Linked DNA regions of Homo sapiens: region 1 is linked to region 2. The links come from fine-mapping of genetic effects on gene expression. A gene starts in region 2. The other region holds a variant in brackets. All regions are shown on one strand. Distances are between the middles of the regions. Region 1 overlaps PLCE1 (phospholipase C epsilon 1). Region 2 holds the start of PLCE1 (phospholipase C epsilon 1).

The links. PIP is the estimated chance that this variant, and not a neighbour inherited with it, causes the effect.
Region 1: its variant is fine-mapped to the expression of PLCE1 in pancreas (GTEx, PIP above 0.99).

What each region holds. Positions count from the first base shown.
Region 1 is chr10:94,258,042-94,268,886 of GRCh38, forward strand. PLCE1 (phospholipase C epsilon 1) reads left to right here. Exons shown (of 33, transcript NM_016341.4): 12 at 759-881; 13 at 973-1,109; 14 at 4,453-4,691; 15 at 7,606-7,667; 16 at 7,752-7,917. Among named protein-coding and RNA genes, the nearest start is that of PLCE1-AS1, 24 kb to the right of the region's middle. The variant A/G (reference allele first, on the strand shown) is at 5,371.
Region 2 is chr10:93,988,679-93,999,523 of GRCh38, forward strand. PLCE1 (phospholipase C epsilon 1) reads left to right here and starts at 5,253. Exons shown (of 33, transcript NM_016341.4): 1 at 5,253-5,580. It overlaps LOC105378438 (a long non-coding RNA gene), which reads left to right. Exons shown (of 4, transcript XR_946215.2): 4 at 4,542-5,041. RefSeq lists a silencer at 5,067-5,356.

The DNA.
Region 1 (10,845 bases), 270 kb after region 2:
GAGTTGACTGATATTTCTACATTGAATAGATGCAGCCTTGGAAGGTGCAAATATAATCCTAGTCAAAGCTGGCTTTTTTCCATTCTTTTTTAAATTTTCTAAAATTAGAGACAGTGCCTCACTATGTTGGCCAGGCTGGTTTCGAACACCTGGGGTCAAGCAATCTTCCCACCTCAGCCTTCCAAAGTGCTGAGATTATAAGCATGAGCCACCGCACCCAGCCCTTTCCATTCTTAACATTTTTCCGGTTCACATTTTTCATTAATATTTAAAAGCTCTTCTCTGTTTTCATCTAAGGACTGGTTAAGAAAGGAATCAGACAATACACTCAAAGGTTTCTTCTTAAATGTAATTCTATAACTTAGAATATAGAAAAGAACGTGCATTATTTCCCATAGATTAAGAGTGAGTAATTTGGGGCTCTTTTTAATAGACATCTTCAGAAACACTGAGTTATTTTGCCCATTGATCTGCAATTTCAAAGAACTGATTTGATTAATAGAGGAATATTAACCTCAGCCCTGGGCCCTTATTAAATAGACTAGAAACATGTTTTCTTTTTCACATAGAACATGTTTTATTTCCTCTGATACAATATAGGTTAAGAGATGTGAAAAGAGAGTACTGGAAAATAGCTTCAATCTTAAATAACTTGCACTCATCCTTTTGCTCATATTGCTAATTGGAGCAAGTCTGGTGGGACAGAATCACAACAGTGGCCTGCCCTTGTGCCCATGAAGGCCTTGTCTTTGTTGCAGTGCTTGGAGCAGTAGTAGCTGGCACGGGCGGATCAAAGGCGGCATGAAGGGATTTCAGAGCTTCATGGTTTCAGATAGCAACATGAGTTTTGTTGAATTTGTTGAGCTGTTCAAATCATTCAGGTACAGTCTTATGTTTCCTTCTTATTCTTTCTCAGGCCCCCCCATTTCTATAAAGATACTCAATGAGAGGTGTTTTCCATTCCTCATTCAGTGTCAGGAGCCGCAAGGACCTGAAGGATCTGTTTGATGTCTATGCAGTGCCCTGCAACCGATCTGGCTCCGAGTCAGCCCCACTCTACACCAACCTGACAATTGATGAAAACACCAGCGATCTTCAGCCTGACCTAGGTTTGTTGAACATTTTAGGATTTCCCTTTGGGATCAATCTGTCTAAAACTTAAGGTCAGAGGTCCAGTCACACAAACTCTGAGCCTGTCCCACATAGTGTGCTATTACTGCTGTGTAGGGAAAGACTTAAGAGAATTTTTTTTTTTTTTTTGAGATGCAGTCTCACTCTGTAGCCCAGGCTGGAGTGCAGTGGTGCAATCTCAGCTCACTGCTACCTCCACCTCCCGGGTTCAATTGATTCTCCTGCCTCAGCCTCCTGAGTAGCTGGGACTACTGGCATGTGCCACCATGCCTGGCTAATTTTTTGTATTTTTAATAGAGACAAGGGTTTCACCATGTTAGCCAGAATGGTCTCGATCTCCTGACCTCGTGATCTGCCACCTCAGCCTCCCAAAGTGCTGAGTTTACAGGCATGAGCCACCTCACCTGGCCAACACTTAGAGAATTATTTTAAGGTGTCATCTGGTGTTGAGGGAGCAGGTGCTACTGGCATTTTGAGCAAAGAAATTCATCATTGTGTGGTTCTGCCCATGTATTTATTTAACCAATAAAGCCTTCCAGTCATTCTGACAACCAAAAACCCTTTCCCGACTATATTAGTCCATTTTCATGCTGCTGATGAAGACATACCCAAGACTGGGTAATTTATAAGGAAAAAGAGGTTTAAGGGGCTCACAGTTCCACCTGGCTGGGGAGGCCTTACAATCATGGAAGAAGATGAAAGGCGTGTCTCACATGGCAGCAGACAAGAGAACTTGTGCAGGAAAAACTCCCCTTTATAAAACCATCAGATCTCATGAGACTTATTCACTATCATGAGAACATTTTCACATGGGAAAGACCTGCCCCCATGATTCAACTACCTCCCACCAGGTCCCTTCCACAACATGGAATTGTGGGAGCTACAATTCAAGATGAAATTTGGGTGGGGACACAGCCAAACCATATCACTGACCATTTCCAAATGTCTGCTAGGTATGTGGTGTGTGTCACAGTGGAGAACCCCCAGTCTCTTCCCTACCTACAGACAGTTGTGTGTTCAATCACAGGGCAGTAGTCTCCTGCCCTTTGACAAGGAGAGTCTTTAGCGCCTTCCACAGGGTACTTCTGTCTGAATGATTGTCCAGGATATATTTCCTACTGTATAAACAAGAATGTCTCATTCTTCTATCTCACTCACCACCACCACCATTACTATCACCACCCATGCATTTTCTAACCACTTATGCATTTCCAGCCTATCATTTTCCTCCTCTGTTCTTCCTGGAAACTATAAACACAAATAGCAAAACAAAAAACTTTCCTCTTTTATGCAGTTGCTTCATAATTATTTATAAGTTTATGTTGTCCTTGAGCTAAGACTATTAAGTATTGTTCAACTTTAGTCATAAAATCTCCATAACCATGGATTAGTCAAGTAGTTACATTTTTCAAAAATTATTGGACTTTATTTTTTGTTCTATTATATTTTATTATTTTATTATTTATCATGATTTTCATGTATTTTTTATTTTTGTTTTATTTTAAAATATTATTATTTTAAAATAATGTAATTTTTTGTAGAGACAGGGTCTTGCTCTGTTGACCAGGCTGCTCTCAAACTCCTAGCCTCAAGCAATCCTCCTGCCTCAGCTTCCCAAAGTGCAGGGATCTTAGGCATGAGCCTCCATGCCCAGCTTAGACTTTATTTTTAGAGCAATTTTAGGTTTATGGAAAAATGAGTGGAAAGTACAGAGTTCCAATATACTCTCTTCTACTCTCCCACACAGACTTTCTTCTGTTAGTAATATCTGGCATTAGTGTAGTACATTTGTTACAATTGAGTTAATATTGATATATTATGATGAACTGAAGTCCATAGTTAACGTTAGGATTCACTGTTTGTGTTGTGCATTCTATGGGTTTTGACAAATGTGTAATGACATGTATCCACCTTTACAGTATCATACAGGACAGTTTCACTGCCCTGAAAGTTCCTTATGCTTCATTTTTCCATCCCCCCCGCGACCTCCCTCCAAATCCCTGGCAGCCACTGCTCTTTTTATTATCTCCATAGTTTTGCCTTTTCCAGAATGTCATATAGTTGGAATCACACAGTACATAGCATTTTCAGACTGGCGTCTTTCACTTAGCAATATGCATTTAAGTTTCCTTCCTCCGTGGCTTTTTGCAGCTTGGTAGCCCATTTCTTTTTACCCTGGGTAACATTCCATTTTGCGGAGGTACTACAGTTTGTTTATCCATTCACCTACTGAAGTATATCTTGGTTGCTTCCAAGTTTTAGCAATTATGAATAAAGCTGCTATAAACATTTGTATTCAGGTTTTTGTGTGGGCATAAGTTTTTCCATCATTTGGGTAAATACCTAAGAGTGCAATTGCTGGATCATATGGTAAGCCTATGTTTAGCTCCATAAGAAACTGCCAGACTGTCTTCCAAAGTGGCTAAAATTAAAATGGCCATACCAAAGTTGGTGCGAATGTGAAGCAATTGGAACATTGCAGGTGGGAATGTAAACTGGTACAACCACTTTGGAAGACAGTGTGGCAGTTTCTTACTAAGCTAAACATATTCCTTCCATGTGACCAGCAATTACAGTACTTGGTATTTACCCAAATGAGTTGAAAAATTTATATTCACATAAAAATCTGTAAACAAATGCTTATATTAAACAGTAAAACTGTAATTTTAAGGGTATATCTTCAATCTCTACAAACAAAAATGTGCAAGTAGTTACTCCCTAAAACCAAAGCCTGAATTTCACCTAAGTCCCCAGCTGAACCTACATTTAGTTGCCATGTAATACCACATGGGATATCAAGATCATCAACCTAGCTCTGTCTTCTTTTCCTTTTTTTTTTTTTTTTTGAGACAGACTCTCACTCTGTTGCCCAGGCTAGAGTGCAGTGGCGTAATCTTGGCTCACTGCAACCGCCGCCTCCTGGGTTCAAGCAACTCTTATGCCTCAGCCTCCCGAGTGGCTGGGACTACAGGTGCACACCACCATGCCTGGCTAATTTTTGTATTTCTAGTAGAGACGGGGATTCACCATGTTGGCCAGGCTGGTCTTGAGCTCCAGACCTCAGGTGGTCCACCTGCCTCAGCCTCCCAAAGTGCTAGGATTACAGTCATGAGCCACCATGCTCAGCCTTTATTTATTCATTGATTTGTTTTTTATTCCTATCACTATGTGAAGCCAGAAATAAACACTTCTTTGATGGCTTGTTTAGGTACATTAGTAAAGAGCTTCTCCATTTTAATAACTCCACACCATTATCTCCAAAATGAACTTTGCAAAAGATGCTGGCTATCTTGTCCATGTACTGTGGTGATTCTGTTTCAGATCTGTTGACCAGAAATGTCTCGGATTTGGGGTTGTTCATTAAGAGTAAACAGCAGCTATCGGACAACCAGAGGCAGATATCTGATGCCATTGCTGCTGCAAGCATTGTGACAAATGGCACTGGGATTGAGAGCACATCTCTGGGCATTTTTGGGGTGGGCATACTTCAGCTCAACGATTTCCTCGTGAATTGCCAAGGAGAACACTGCACTTATGATGAAATCCTCAGCATCATCCAGGTTTGTGCCTGTTTTGTGTGTGCATGTGTGTGTGATGCCTCTGGCTATTCTAATAATTTGCTGCTAAATGTTTATTCTTTCTATACTTCTTTCCAAAGCCTTTAAATCTGGGACAGATATACAGTTTTGTTTTTTTTTTTGTTTTTTTGGGTGTTTTTGAGACAGAGTCTTACTCTGTGGCCAGGCTGGAGTGCAGTGGTGTGATCTCGGCTCACTACAACCTCCGCCTCCCAGGTTCAAACGATTCTCCTGCCTCAGCCTCCTGAGTAGCTGGGACTACAGGTGTGCGCCACCACGCCCAGCTAATTTTTGTGTTTTTAGTAGAGATGGGGTTTCACCATGTTGGCCAGGATGGTCTCAATCTCTTGACCTCGTGATCTGCCCACCTCGGCCTCCCAAAGTGCTGGGATTACAGGCGTGAGCCACTGCGCCCGACCTTGTTTTGTTTTGTTTTTTTAACAAAATACCAAGTATGTTTTTTAACAAAATACCAAGTATGGGCTGGGTGTGGTGGTTCATGCCTGTAATCCCAGCACTCTGGGAGGCTGAGGCCGGTGGATCACCTGAGATCAGGAGTTCAAGACCAGTCTGGCCAACATGGTGAAACTGCATCTCCACTAAAAATACAAAAATTAGCCAGGTGTGGTGGTGCGTGCCTGTAATCCCAGCTACCTGGGAG[A/G]GTGGAGCAGGAGAATCACTGGAACACGGGAGGCAGAGACTGCAGTGAGCTGAGATCACACCACTGCATTCCAGCCTCGGCAACAGAGCAAGACCCCATCTCAAAAAAAAAAAAAAAAAGAAAAAGAAAAATCAGCCAGGCATGGTGGTCCACGCTTATAATCCCAGCTACCTGGGAGGCTGAGACACGAGAATCGCTTGAGCCCAGGAGTCACAGAGGTTGCAGTGAGCTAAGATCACACCACCGCACACCAGTCTGGGTAACAGAGCGAAACCCTGTCTCAAAAAAACAAACAAAAAACAAGTATGTAAGTGTTCTTCTTTAACATATTATTAGTGTATTATTACATAATATGTTTTTCTTTAACATATTATATGTTCTTCTTTAACATTATTAGTGTAATAATATTAACATATTATTAGTGTATTATTACATATTAATGTAGGTCCCAGGCTTTCTCTAACTCAGTAACTATTATAAGGAGTTGGTACATAATTTTTTGTTGTTATTCTAGAACATGCAACAGATTTAGTCTAGGTTTTCAACCTCATTAGTCATTAAATGAACATGCACTAGTTCCTACTATGCTGGCTCAGTTTTAGGAGGTGGGAATATAGCAGAGAATAAGATAAAAGTTCTGGTCCTCAATGCAGCTTACATTCTAGAAGGTGAGGCAGACAACAAAGATACGATGTAATTTCAGGTAATAATGGGGTAGGGGAAAAACTGAGTCAAGTAAAGGAATGGAATGATACAGGAGGTGGGCTGAGGAGAGTAAGCAAAGGCCACTTGGAAGAGGTGGCATTTGGACTGAGCCCTAAGTCAATAACCAGTTTGATGGTCTCGGGAAAGAGCATTCCCCACAGGGAGCCACAAGGTCAAAGACCAAGACAGCAGCAAGCTGGGGGTTTATGAGGAACCACAAAAAGCTGGTGTACTGTGAGCTGCACAAGCCAGGCAGAGAATGGCAGGCATGGTGTCAGACAGATGTGCAAGGGCCCAATCATCCGGGCCTTTTAGAGCTTGATAAGGAGGTTGGCTTTAGTCCATGTGAAATGGGATACCACTGAAATTTTTGAGCAGGGGAGTAACATGATTTGATTTTTTTTTTTTTTTTTTTTTTTTTTTGAGACAGAGTCTTGCTCTGTCACCCAGGCTGGAGGGCAGTGGCGCGATCTTTGTTCACTGCAACCTCCGCCTCCCAGGTTCAAGCAATTCTCCTGCCTCAGCCTCCCAAGTAGCTGGGATTACAGGCACACAGCACCATGCCCAGCTAATTTTTGTATTTTTACTAGAGATGGGGTTTCACCATGTTGGCCAGGCTGGTCTCGAACTCCTGACCTCGTGATCCACCCACCTCAGCCTCCCAAAGTGCTAGGATTACAGGCGTGAGCCACCGCGCCTGGCTGATTTATTTTTTATGAGATTACTCTGAGCCACGCATGGTGGCACAAACCTGTAGTCCCAGCTACTCAGGAAGCTGAGGCAGAAGGATTGCCTGAGCCCAGAAGTTTGAGGCCAGGCTGGGCAATATAGTAAGACCCTGTCTCTAAAACAAAATTTTAAGTGGTTACTCTGGCCCCATTGTAAACTGTGTGGGTGAAGGAACAGATGCAGAGAGACTGCTTAGGAAGCTATCATAGTAACCAGCAATAGCTGGTGAAGGTTTACACTACAGGGTGTCAGCAGAGAGGAGCGGTGTGGCTCCATGCAACAAATGAGTCTAGGTTTCAACCTCCCTTATCACCTGACTGGGTATCAGTGTATTAGTTGTCCAGCAGTTGGATTTGATCACCGAAAATGCTAAAATTGTGAGATTACTATCACACTGTTGAGTGCTCATTATGATTTTACTAAATACAGGCATGGCACTAAGTGCTCTATGTGAATCATCTCAGTTCACCTCTCACCAACTTTATGGTAGCTGCTATTATTATCCCCATTTTCACCTGGATAAACTGATACACTTTGTTTTCATAGAAATCAGCCTTCTTTTCTCATTCTCTTCTTTTTTCTATTAAATAAATATGCTTAGTATAATAAACTCACATATAATAAATGTTTTCTTTTGGACTAAAAACTACTTCTTACCACTACGTTACTAAATTAGTTCAAATATTTGGTTTAGATGTTTCCTGATGAAAACAGAACAGCTTTAAAAAATGATGTGGTGGTTTCTTTCCCCCTCTTAGTTTCCTTAACCTAAATAACACTTTTTTTTTTAATCCCTTGCAGAAGTTCGAGCCTAGCATCAGTATGTGTCATCAGGGACTAATGTCATTTGAAGGGTTTGCCAGGTAACTTTTAAAATATCTTTTGCCCATCTTTTAAGAGTAGATGCATTTTTCCCATGCAGTCTTAAGAAAATTTGTTTCACCTAGGTTTCTGATGGATAAAGAAAATTTTGCCTCAAAAAATGATGAGTCACAGGAGAACATTAAAGAACTGCAGCTACCCCTCTCATACTATTACATCGAATCTTCGCACAATACCTACCTCACGGGCCATCAGCTCAAAGGAGAATCCTCGGTAGAACTCTACAGCCAGGTACAGGGAATGCCACTTGGAATGTGGTTTTTATTAAACCTAATTATTTATGTAACCCCCAAAGTCAAAAAAACCTGACCCCAGACTCCTTTGAAGAGCTTATAGAGTAAGCTATTACATGTCAAATGTGAGGAACCATGATGTGTGGGAAAACTGGCTATACTACAGCAGTCGTTTTCTTTACTTCTTTTGTTTTGTTTTCCCCCATCTATACTTAACCTTTATTCTGGGCCAAAATGAAAGTGTTTGTTTGAGACTCATAGCTTTTAGATCCTAGTTAGTCTGACCTACTCCCACTAAAATTAGATTTTCCCATGGGAAAATTATCTAATCGTCTCTCTAACTGCTAAATAATATATTGTAGTGGGAAAGCATAGTAGAAAATGCAACTTCCTATGTACTTATTCCCAAAATATTGTTTGTTTTGCTTTTCAGTTTGTTAAATAATCAATCTATCCCTATGGTAACCAAAAAAAATGCAGAAAAAAATCTACACAGACTTTAGGCACTGTCCCTACACATTAAATTCATCAGAATGTTCTTTGAAACTCAGTAGGTTCTCTAGACTAGAAAAAGTACATCCTTTTGACCTAAACATCCAACTTGCAATGATCTGCGTGTCCATTGCCTCTCTGCTGGATGGTCTGCAGCTTCCTCATCTATTCTGCCTTTTTTCTTAACTCTTTCAAGAAGGGTCAATTCGGTTGGAGCCAGGCAGGGAATATAAGTGTGTCATTGTGTGCACACGTGGGTCCAGGTTTGAAAACTACAGGTGTATTGTTTACATAACCCCAGCACCAGTGAGGTTTCTTTGTTCTCCAGATTAGTCCAGATATTCCTCAAAGCATGGGGCAATTTTTTGTCCCAAAGCTTGCTTAGCGGGAATATGTATTTTAAACTCTATTTTCTAAGGAAACTTTATTATGAATGAAGATGTGTTCTTAGAGCAGTGATTTTCAAAATAGAAGTTCTGTCATGGGGCCTCAGCCCCCCACACTGAGATGAGGAAGCCAGAGAGTAGGAGGGGTGCCATACGCTGCCCCATTTCAGGTAATGTACTACTCCTCTACACACTACATACTGGCCCTCCCTTCGCACACAGAATGCCAAAGTTAAAAGAAGTTTGAAATCCATTATTCTATAGGAATGAAATTAAATATACATATAAATACAGATACTTATATATATTTCATATACACATTTGTAGGTACACACATATACATGCGTGTACATATATGTGTAAGTGCATATATACATATCTATGTATATTTATGTACTTGTGTGTATCCACATTTATCCCAGGGAAATAAACAAGGACCAGTGTCCTGGCTTTAATTTCTATTTCATTCCTCTGTTTGACTTCAAACAGTTTTTAAACCTCTTAATATCACACCCCAAGGAGAGACTCTCACAGCTTTTGAATAAGGCACAAGAACCCCTCAAATAGACTCAGAGATGTGACTAAACCTAGTGTGCAGGTGGATCCCTCTTACTTCATTTCTAACCCCTCTCCACTCTTCCTTAGCCCTTCCTAATTACCTCTTAACATTACTCCATGGGGCAAATGGGAAGTGAGAATAAGCCCTGTTCTTCTCATCTAGAATTTCCAGCCCAGGTTTTCCTCTTCTAGCCATATGTGGATATCTAAGGTTACACAGACTTTGGTGAAGACCTTTAGTCCTTCAATGCTGAAAAGCCATCTCATCTGTTGCCAGTTGCTGAACATTATTCCTGGTCTGGCAGGGGCACCACAGAGATAAGCAGCTTGGTGTTCCAGCCACCATTTTACATAGCAATTTCCAGCCCAAGGCACTGCACCTCTAGATACTCTAGCTGCTGAAAGAAGCAGATAGCCTTGAGATTCTAGGCCACTGACTATGCTGTAAAATAGGAAGAATATAGCACTTATCCCATATAAAAGTGTTAAAATGAGAATCATTCCACTATCTGAGCTTAGTTGCAGAAACTCTAGTGGCCACTAAGCCCCAGTAATGGATTGCTGTCACACAGAAATAGTTATGTGCATTCTAAAATCAGTGGGTAGGCACATTTACAGATGTATCAATTTCTTGGCTTGGGTCACTATTCCAGTATGTAATAATTTTTTAAGATGATGTACAGATCTATGGAGGAAGAGGTTGCTTCAAGCAAACTTTATAGAGTTGCAACCCAAGCACATGTATTGAGCTCTGCTTCCCACTTCAGATCCAGGATAACAAATAGGTATCAGCTCATCTGATTCTTTGGTAGTGTTTTCTGGAGCACTTTAATAAAGAGGTTATGAGCTAACATATTAAAGCTTAAAGGACAAGTGTGCCTAGCTTGATTACTGATGTCTGCTGTGGGTATGGGAGAAAGGAACCATTTATGGATTATTTGCCATCCCTGCTCTAGTTGCTATTCTGGAATTAGATAGCCAGGCAAATCCTTGATAACTCTGCTTCCACTCTTCTTACATGTTATGCATTCACAGCAAAGATGTTTAATCGTGGCTTAATTTGGGTCTTAATGGAAGTGATTTTATCCTGATTGGCTTGCTGTAAATGTTTAGCCAGTTCATTAAGGACTCAGTGGCCTTATTTTCTCTGGGCTGTGGCATCAGCATTTTCACCTCCATTGATGTCTACCCAGATAGAGAGCACTTGCCTGGCTCTCTAATTTGAAGACGTGCCCTTTCAAGGGGCCAAAGTTGCTAGGAAAATGGCCATATGGTTTTGCTATCAAATTTTACTTTCCTTTAATATCCAGCTCTGGTAAACACTCTTTCTACCTTAATCTGTTCCCTTCCTTCCCCACTCTGGATTAATTGTGGCCTTTGGCAAAAATGCCATGTTTGTTTTAGACCATTTGCCCTTCTGCTTTAGTCCTGAGTGTAAACACTGCCTGATATGTAGAACTACATGCTGGGTTTAGTTCGAGGCTTTATCT
Region 2 (10,845 bases):
GACTTTGCTTACCATTTCTTTTTTTTTTTTTTTTTTTTTTTTTGAGACGGAGTCTTGCTGTCACCCAGGCTGGAGTGCAGTGGCACGATCTCGGCTCACTGCAAGCTCCGCCTCCCAGGTTCATGCCATTCTCCTGCTTCAGCCTCCTGAGTAGCTGAGACTACAGGCGCCCGCCACCACGCACAGCTAATTTTTTATATTTTTAGTAGAGACGGGTTTTCACTGTGTTAGCCAGGATGGTCTGGATCTCCTGACCTCGTGATCTGCCCACCTCGGCCTCCCAAAGTGCTGGGATTACAGGCGTGAGCCACCACGTCCAGCTGACTTTGTTTACCATTCCACTGTGAAAATACAGGCAAGCAGAAGAAAACTTTCACGAGCTTCAACTAACTCTACCTACCTCCCAACATTCGTTCCTATTGTTCCAGTTATGAAAGTTATGTAAGGAACTATCCCAAGACTTATGGCCTAAAAGACTGACCATTTATTTGGCTCAAAAACCAGCAATTTGGGCAGGGCATGGCAGGGATAGCTTTGATCTGCTCTACTTACTATTGCTGGAATGGCTTGAAGGTTAGTGACTGGAATCCCTTGGAGGCACATTCACCCACATGTTCAAGGTTGATGCTGGCTGTCAGCTGGGATCATACATGCCTCTCCAAGTGGTCTGGGCTTCCTTACAACATGGCATCTGGGTTCTTGGGTGAGAGTTCTGGAGCAAGATAGGCAAACAAAAGCTGTCTCAACTTCCATGACATAGGTACTCTAGCCACAAAGCATCACTTCTACCTCATTCTATTAGTTAAGGGGCTGCCCATATTCAAGAGAAGGGGAATTAGACTTCACCTGATATCAGTGGCAAGGTTCTAGAAGAGGATGTGGGACTGGAAATATAGCTGCATCTACTTTTGAAAAATACATTCTGTATTCTCTCCTGTTTCTTTAAACTGTGCATTTTGGCCACTAAGAACAACATAAAACCTTAAAAACTACATCTAGAGAAGTCTCCACACCTGAGGCCGGAGTTCAAGACCAGCCTGGGCAACATAGCAAGACATCATCTCTACAAAACAATTTTTTTTTAAATTAGCTGGGCATGGTTGTGCTTGCCTGTGGTCCTAGCTACTCAGGAGGCTGAGGAGGGAGGATCACTTGAGCCCAGGAGTTCTAGGTTACAGTGAGCTATGATCACACTACTGCACTCTAGCCTGGGTGACAGAGCAAGACCCTACCTCGAGAAGAAAAACAAGAAGTTTCTAATGTCTATGCTTTGGAATTCCAGTGTTGCTAAAACTTTTTTTAAAAAATTGTGCTTTTATAATTTTTCATTATGGCTCCTTGAAACAATTTGAGCTGGTCCCAACTTTTGCTGACAACAACTCTGAACCAGGTATTACAATGAGATTCCTGAATGTTTCAAGAAGAAAAAAATGTTCTGTCAAAAGATTGACAAGATTTTGGAATATTCAAAGGGGTTTATGGCCTTTAAATACCATAAGTCTAAATGAAAATAAAAATCTGAGTTTTATTTATTTAAGTAATAAACCTTTATACGTTCTAAGTGTTTTCATATACACTGGCTCATTTAATCCTCACAATTACGCTGAGGGGTACTGTATTAGTCTGTTCTCACGCTGCTCATAAAGCATACCCAAGACTGGGTAATTTATAAAGAAAAAGAGATTTAATGGAATCACAGTTCCACTTGGCTAGGGAGGCCTCACAATCATGGCAGAAGGCAAGGAGGAACAAAGTCACAGCTTACATGGCAGCAGGCAAGACAGAAAGAGCATGTGCAGGAAAACTCCCCTTTATAAAACCATCAGATCTCGTGAGACTTATTCACTGTCATGAGAACAGCATGGGAAAGGCCCATCCTCACGATTCAATTACCTCTCACTGGGTCCCTCCAACAACGGGGGAATTATGGGAACTACAATTTGAGATTTGGGTGGGGACACAGCCAAACCATATCAGGTAGGTACAATTTATCTAGAGGAAAATGAGGCACAGTGAGATAAGTAACCTGTCCGAGGGCTCACAACTTGGGGGTGGATCTGAGCATCCAACTCAAGTGGTCCCACACCAAATTCTGTTCCCCTAACACCGGCTGCGCTGAGAGAGGATGTTTAAGATCATCTTTCCCTGCTTTGCTTACTGTTCCCTGGGGACCCTCACTCCTAACCATGTCACACAGGTAGAGATACCTACAGCTTTAACAAGCTGGTTGTTTTTCATCAACCTCAAACTGCCTTAGTACATCTAACCTCACATACAAGACAACTCTAGGAAGTGTGTTTTTGGCTCTCTGCTCACCATCTGAACTTGCTAGTCTATTTGCAGACAGCTAGTAAGCCCGGTACAGTTTGATGCAGTGACTTTGAAAGGGAGAAAATGGCAACTGCAAAAGCTGAGGGCTGCCTTGTTCCTTCAGTCCTTCCTTGGCCTTTGTGCTACCCAGATGTCTGTTGGCAAATTCCTCTGTTTGACGATCAGCAGCTGTTTGACAAAGATCAATGCATTAGTCAATGGTGCCCACACTGACTACTCAGTTCCCAAACTAATGGTTTGTTTATGAACGGGTTAACTGATGGCTGGCTTGTTGAGTGTGGCAAAGCGCCAATCCTTCTTCTGTAATATGTGCAGTAGAGGGTGTGGGGCCTCTTGTTGGCAACCACCACCATGAAGTCAGAGACCACTGCCCCCACCTCCTTTCTGAAAATTACAGGATAGGGGAGGCAGAAAGAAAGAGGGAAGATGGTTCCGTTTCTTAAAATAATTTTACTACTTAAATTCCCTAGTCTCTATGTTTATCATGTATTTAAATCAATTTCCATTGACTGGAGACCAGTATGTAATGTAATAAGCTCAAAAGACATGTGTGTTTTCTTCTGAAATTTCAAACATAGATGCACTTTACTGAAATAAAGTCTCCACAGGATTGTTTCTTGGGGCTGTTGTTGTTGTCTATGCAGAATGGTCTTGTATAAAGAGATGCATAACTTAGTTTACTGAAGCTGAATTTTCCATGGAAATTATCCAGTGCTTTCCCAATTCTCAGGCGCTTTATCTGACAGTCTTTCTTCCTCTAGATAATGGCTGGCAGCAGCCCACAGAGTGGAGGTTATATGGTGCACTTCTGAAAAAGTCTTGAATGGAGCCATTGTTCCCCTGAGATGGTCTGTGTGTTTCACTGAACAGAGAGCAGGGTGTAAAAAAGGCACCTTGTGTGCAACTGTTGGCGAGGTTGGGGAGTGAATTAAAATCTCCAGAAAGTCTGGGCAGTGCTGTTCAGAGGAGCAATGAACACTCTGGAAGTACTGTTAGCTCAGACATTCCAATGTGGTGAGGCAGCCTCGGGGACACGACTTCCCTCCAATCTCGTTTAGAGAGGGAGCCATGGGGCGAGCAAAGGACACTGATCTGGACCTGCTCTCTTTGCAAAGATTTGAGGAAGGCGCCCCTTTCTAGGGATGGGGCCACAGTGATTATCACACTTGGATAACTTTCCTGCTCAACGGACCTAGATTTGCCTTGCTTACTAATCATGCAATGACTCATTTGGAGGATTCAATGTTAACTGCTTGTGCATCTACCAGTTTGTAGCTATCTATTCCCATGTGCCAAATTAAAAAAAAAAAGTCTTTGGGGGTGCCAGGTGATGGATGAAGTTTGATATTATTTGATCATTAAATGAATTATAAAACCATAATATAATACTGTATATTAAATAAATAGCCTACCTTGTTTATTGTCAGTGATGCTACCTCTTTCCTCAGCCCTTTATTTACTTGTTCAGGATAACATAGCCTCAGGGATTGAGTAAATTACCACTTCTCACTGTCCTAGTGCTAAAATGCCAAGATCTTAAGGAACAAAGAATTTCTTTAGAGCCCTCTGCAGAGACCTTTCTGAAATCAGCTCTCCAGGGAGGCAATCATGTTAGTTTTCATTAAAGTCCTAGTGGTGAGAAAACAGCAAGACAGTTTAAGGACCAGACTGGCAGATTTTTCTTAACAGCAGGATTCTTTGGGCCTCCTGTGCTTTCTTGCTCCAACCTCTCCTGTGTTCTGGAGCCTCCAAGAAGGAGAGATCACTTTTAAGAGGGACCCGAAAGAAAGGGTCAAACATGAGCAGGAGGAAAGTGTGTGGGAGGAGATGCTCCAGGTAGAAGGCTCAGCTTAAGTTCAGGTACAGAGCTAGAGTGGGAGAGACATTCTGTTGGGTGATCCTTATTAGCCAGGGCATGCTGGGTTACACAGCCATGGAGAGTTAGTTTGGAGGGCAATAGGGAGCCAGTGAAGTTTTCTGCATAGATTAAAGTTGTAAAAAAGGAAGAATAATACAGCGGTGGTTTGAAGGATTGATTTGGTCCAAGGGAGAGGACAGTGGGAGGCGATATGGGCCACAGGAATGGGTCCTGATCGGATGTAGGAGAAGAGGTCAGGCCTAGGGAACGGTCTTCCATTAGAACAGGTAGAGGGAGGAGGCACAGGTTTAGGCGAAAGGGAGGAGGATGATGATTTGATTTTTTTTTCCAGGTCCTTGGCTCTCCTAAGACTCATAAAAGCCGCTCCAGCGGCTAAGGAAGTTCTGTGCAAAGCCTGTAGTTTCTAGTTGTGAAGATCTTCAGGTTTGCTTGAGCAATGAAAGAGTACTGGATTTGGAGTCCGCAGTCCTGGATGGCCACCATTACCAGCAAAAGGAGTATTTCCGGAGCCTGGCACAACGCTGGGCACATTGATGGGGCTCAATGAATATGTATTAAATGAACGAGTGACAGAACAGATTCGAGACTTGGTGCTGCCATCTACTACAGAGACCTTGATCGTGTCCTTTATCTGCCGTGAACCTCAGTTTCCATATCTGTCAACCAGGGGTGGTTCCCTGGGGTAGTGTGAGAGTAAATTCCCGCCGCCTGAGGTGTGCAGAGTTCCCGCCCTTCCCGGAGCCGGGCGCCCCAGGAGCGCTCTCTCTGGCTCCCGCCAGAAAGGATGGCTCCTAGGGGTCAGGGCCAGGGGTCTGGGAAGGGGTCGCGCCGCCAGCAGCCAGCTCCGGGGGAGGCGGCCGGGTCCTCGCTCCGCGCCCGCCTTCCCCGCGCGGCAGGAGCCGGGGGCGGGCCCGGCACAGGCCGCTCCCCCGCCCGGCCGCCCGCGGTGGCGCTAGCGGCCTCTCACCCGGGGCGGGCGAGTTCTGGGAAAGCCCGGCCCAGGGCGGGGGCCCCGCTGCCGCCCGCGCAGCCGCCGCTGTCCGGGCAGCGCGCACATCTCGGCGGGAGCGGACTGTGAACGGCGCGGGTCCACACGGTAACGCTGGGCAACGTGGGCAACGCGGCGGGCGGCGGGCTCGCGCGGCGGGAGGGGCAGCGGCGGCGCGCCCGGGCTCTACCTCCCGGGCTCTGCCTCCCGGGCTCTGCCTCTCGGGCACTTGCCTGGCTCCTGCGCGTTCCTGGGCATCGGCTCTGCAGCTGACACACAGTAGCGGGGACACCCGACGCCGCTAGCGACAGGCGCGCGGACGGCTGGTCCCAGAGGGACGCTGCGCTTGGGGACGCCGGCGAGACTCGCCAGGAGCCAAGAGGTGAGGAAGCGACTCTGTAGCTCGGTTCCTGAGGACTGGAGAAAGGGAAGGATGGGCTGGTTCTCTCCCAAGGCAGTCGACCCGCCTAAGGGAGCAGCCCGACTCCGCGTACCTGGCGGAAAAGTGTCCTCGCGCTCCCGGGGGACCCGAGGCGGGCGGTCCTCCAGGGCATGCAGGCCGCCCTCGCAGGGGCTAAAGGACACCCTGCCAGTGCCTTCACTCCAGACGCCTGCCTCAGGTCGCCCCTTCGTGTTGTGAATACGGTGTGGAGGTGGCCAGTGCAAAGAAAAACGTAAGCTCTTTTTGTGGCGGTACTTAGCAGCGGTATTTCAAGGAAAGTGCTCAAGAGATTGTTCCTGGAGAGATTTGTGTACATCAAGTCCTAGAAAATACAATATTGGACCAGGTCCCGCTCTAACTGATAACTAGAATAGCTAGCTTTGCCTTCAAGTCCTTTAATGCTACAGTAATAAATACACTAGAGCAAGAAGTCTTCTGTCGTGGCGAATGTTAGGTGCACAGCGTAAATTTGTGGAAGCTTTCGCCCCTCGCTCTGTATTTAAGCCATCAGACACTGAGTTCAGCCGACTTAACCAATTATTCAGTGTAAGACTCATTTAGTGATTAATCAGTGTCATTTTAAATAGTGAGTTCCCTGAATACCTGTTAAGTAGGATTCACGTCTTCGAAAAGTTTTATTTGCACGAAGGTCATAATTTCAGTTGCATTATGCAAAATTTGCCCGTAGGTCTTTTAGATCTCTGCAGGATTGGTATGTTTTCATGTTTCTTATACCCCCCGTAGAGGTAGGGCAGGGCCGCTGCCACAGAATGGGCACTACTGAGGCCAAGAATGCTTGACCCCACTAGGGAGAATTTTTGAGAGCCTGACTTGGGAGGTGGAAGCAGGTGACCCCATAGGTGCTTGTACAGGTGCCCAGTTGTCATTGAGGAGAGAGGTGGACTATCTCTAGGTTATTGTATGCATCGATGTCTTCATAAATACTTTTCTGAAGAATGTCTGATGGTGTTGTCATCTAGACCATCTGATGGCACATCTTCCCCCACATCCACCACTCTAAAGTCTAACCATCCTTCAAACTGTGTTTTGCTGGTGGTGTGAGGCTTTTCCTGAAACAGCCAACCTCCCCCTGCTCTGATTTCTGCAGCATTTTTTCTCCAGGGCCCTTTCTGCTCTCTACCTTCTGGGAGTTATTTATGTAGATGTCTCATTTTCCCTACTGAAGGCATTTGCTGTGGCTTTCATGGCAAAATGCTTGCACCTAGAAGACTCTAGAGATAATTGTGGGCCAGTATTAAATCTTAAGACTTTGGTTTTACAACATAAATATCTACTTTGGAGAAGGAGATAATATAATTGAAAGGAGCTAGAGGAATGTATAATGTTTACCATTAACACTATCCTTTATTTACAGCCCCATGGGGGAAATTCCCTTTATACCCAGGAGCCATGTCTTACCAGGTAAGAAGCCAGATTGAACTGGAGGGACATTCTTCCAGTCCTCTTAGTAACATAAACTCCTGGGATGTGGTCCAAGTTTGACCTGTCATTAAAAATTCCATACTCCAGTGGGTTAGAAGCTAGATTCCAATGAAGGCGGTTGGTTTTGTTTTTCTATTTACAACCATTCTTAGTCACATTCTTCTCTGGGCTTTTGTTGTATACTTTAAAAAAACTGTTTGATGTGCAATTTGTTACCTGTAACTTTCTAAATGAATAAAAGAAGATTGAAAAAATACTGTGCATGGTGGAAGAGTTTTCTAAAGTAGACAGCAGGGGACGTTTCCCATGCCTGGGCAAGAGGAGGGATTTGCACAGAGTGAGGCTTGCTGCACGTGTGTGTGTGTGTGTGTGCGCGCGCGTGTGTGTTCCACACACCTGGCTGACAGGCGCCTATATAGGACAGTTGCTTTAGTCTTAATGCCTTCTCTCTCTGCCGGAACTACTTCTGCGGTGGAAGAACAATAAAACAGAGCTTCTGGGTTCAGAAGGAGAAGCAGAGGAAAAGCCAAAAACAGTAGAAGCAGCTAAGAGTGTGAATTTGTTTGCTGAAGTTGCTTTCCTCCCAACGTTCAGTTGAGATCTGTGGCATTGAGCAAGTAGGGGTTTGGTTGAGGCGAGGGAAGACAGGTGATTAGGAAACATGGTGCTTCTGGAAGAGGGGTGGAAGGTTCTGATAGGGTTTTAGGGAAGCATGTGATTTAGTTATGTAAGGCCCAAAGAGGAGAGTTGGAGATGGAGGAGTAGGGAATGGAGAAAGAGAGGAAGACGATATCAAAGATGCATTTTGTTATAGGCCAACCATGTGGCCTACAAAGAAGGGCAGAACTCTCTCTAGCATCATGTGTTCCTCTCTGCTCCCTGGATGCAGAATGCAGGGTTTTTACCGAGGCTATAATTCATCTGTGTTATGGCTTAAATAGATTTTCGTGGGCCAGATTGGGAACCAAGCCCTCGGAGGCTACATTGTCCAACATGGTAGTCACTAGCCACATATGGCTATTTACATTTGAATTGAAATTAGTTAAATGAAATTAACCACCCATATTTCAAGTGCTTGATAGCTACATGCAGCTAGTGGCTACTGTATTGGACAGTGCAGATATAGAACATTTTCATCATCTCAGAAAATCCTTCCCTAGAGGATTGTTTCAAAGGGGTAATTCCTATTAATCTCCAAAGTGTACTGGTTTCCAAATGAAATTTAGTCATAACTTTAAAGTTTCCAAATTTTACATGAAAATAATAGAAGTTGTTGTTGGTAACACTATGGTGCTTACTACATGCCAGGCACCACTCCAAGAACTTTTATCAATTAACGCATTTAATTTTTATATATTACTCAGTCAATGTGAGAGATCTTATCCTTTAGCTGTATTTCCAAAATCAAAAAAGCTCTAAAAACTGTGATTTTCATAAATTTGGCTACAAAACTTGGTCTGAAGTGACGTGAGGTTATGACAGTCTTTATTTTTCTCACTTGGTGAGAACTACACATATATTTTTACTTCAGAAATTATGGGCATATTTTATTTGCTGCAGATACCATTGAAAGTGTTATGTAAGATATGGCATATGCATTTTTACCATTACAAAATCCATAAAGCTTCTGAATCACAGTTGGCTGGCTGCTCAGAATTTGGATTAGGGAGTGTGGACTTCCATGATTATGCCCATTTTGAAGATGGGAAAACTGAAGCAACGAAAGGTCAAGTGATTTGCATAAAGTCACAGCAAGGAAGTGCCAGTGTCAGGAGCCAGTCAAAGTGGGCTGTCTCCAGAGTCTGTTCTCTTGATCACTGTGCTATCCTACATTAACCTCTGGGCTCATGACCCAAAACAAATAACCATCCTTTTTTTTTTTTTTTTTTTTTTTTTGGTTAGGTGAAACCTAATAGCTTTAACTCAGCTCATTAGAAAGTTTCAGATAGTGATCTGGCTAAATTGTTTAGCAGTTGAGGTTTTGAAATGCCATGGATAGTTCAACCACCGTAATAGACGTGCTTAGCAATTGTTTAGCTTGCCCCTTTCCACCCTGTGTCAGCCACACTTGTTTTTGAGCATTCACTGTGTAAGAACTGGTAGGAAAAGAGGTGGGTACTGGTGAAACCATTGGGCTCATGTTGAAATCTTTGGCATGTGGGGGCTTACATATTCATAACTGTTATGGGGTGGAGGGTGGCCGGTGGTTTGGTCCTAGTATAGATCAACTGTTACAGGCGAGGGCCATTTGGTGGACTACCAGGATTGTAAGCCCTCCTGGCGTGTTTTTGGAGGGTCTGCATCAATCTGACTCAGTCGGAAGTCTTTCTAGGGAAATTGAATTCCTCTTTTCTTGTGGGAGTTCGACTGGAACTGCAAGGCTGGTCTGGGGGCAAGAATGGACATTTCATTTCTCCTCCTCAAGTAGTGGCAAGCCTCAGTGATCTCTTCTTAGATTTTGGTCCAAACCTGCCTTTGAAGAAATTATTGAGTAACCCCAAGGTTTCTCCTTTGAGTAGGAGGAGATGTTCTGGACATTTGACCTTTTGTGTGTAGTTTAGCGTGGCCTCTGCAGGACCCCCTGTCTCTTTGCAGCCAGGGGGCATGTATACCTCTTGCGGCACAGTCTCTGAGGCCCCTAATGATCTTTCCCCACCTGACTCCCTGAATCCAGTTATCATGGCTTAAGGTATAGAGCCTGGACACTCTATTCGTAAATACAAGATTCTCTAGAATCAAATTTCCCTGGGGTTTACCTAGTACAACCTTGGATGAGCAACTGACCTTTGCGTAAAATAGCAATAGTAATTGTACAGGGTTGCTTTGAGGCCAAAGTGAGATGGTTCACCTAAAGCACTTTGCATAGAGACAGACACATCCTGAGTGCTCAAAGTTAACTACTAATATTACTGTTTCTTCCCCCAGGGCTCCTCAAGTCTTCCCAGTCTGCAGTGTTAGGTTTTGGGGAGGTGGAGATGGTAGGCTAGATCATGATCTACCAAAGATGTCCAAGTCTGAATGCCTGGAACCTGTGAATATGTTACTTTACGTGACAAAAGGGACTTTTACAGATGTGATTAAATTAAAGCTCTTGAGATGATCCTGGATGATCTGGGTGGGCTCAGTCTAATCTCGAGTGTTCTTAGAAGAAGGAGACAGGAGTGATGTGAGCAAGGGGTCATGAGCCAAGCCTCTAGAAGCTGGAAAAGGAGAGAAAATGAGTTCTTTCCTAGAGCCTCCAGAAGGAATGTAGCCCTACTAACCCATTTTAGACTTCTGACCTCCAGAACTGTAGGGTGGCACATTGGTATTATTTAAACTACTAAGTTTGTGGTCATTTGTTGCAGCAGCTGTAGGAAACTAATACAGCATGGAAGAATAAAGAGAAAGCAGTCAGGAGTGAGAAGAAAGCTATCAAAATAAGAGAATGATAATATAGCTAGCATTTAGTAAGAGCTTCGTACTAGGTATTGTTCTAAGCAATTTATAGGTACTAACTTGTTTAATCCCCACAACCCACTTTCTGAGGTAGGTACTTTTATTATCTGCATATCACAGATGAGGAAACTGAGGCACTGAGAGGTTAAGTAACTTACCCAAGGTCACACAGCTAGTATGCAGGAGATCCGGGATGTGAGTCCAAGCATTCTGGCACTCTTAACTGTCACCCACACTACTCCCAAAGGCAGGCATTTCTGGCTGTTGAGTCTGACACTATCAGCCACTGAATGGTATGTGACTGTACGTGGGGAAAATGCAATG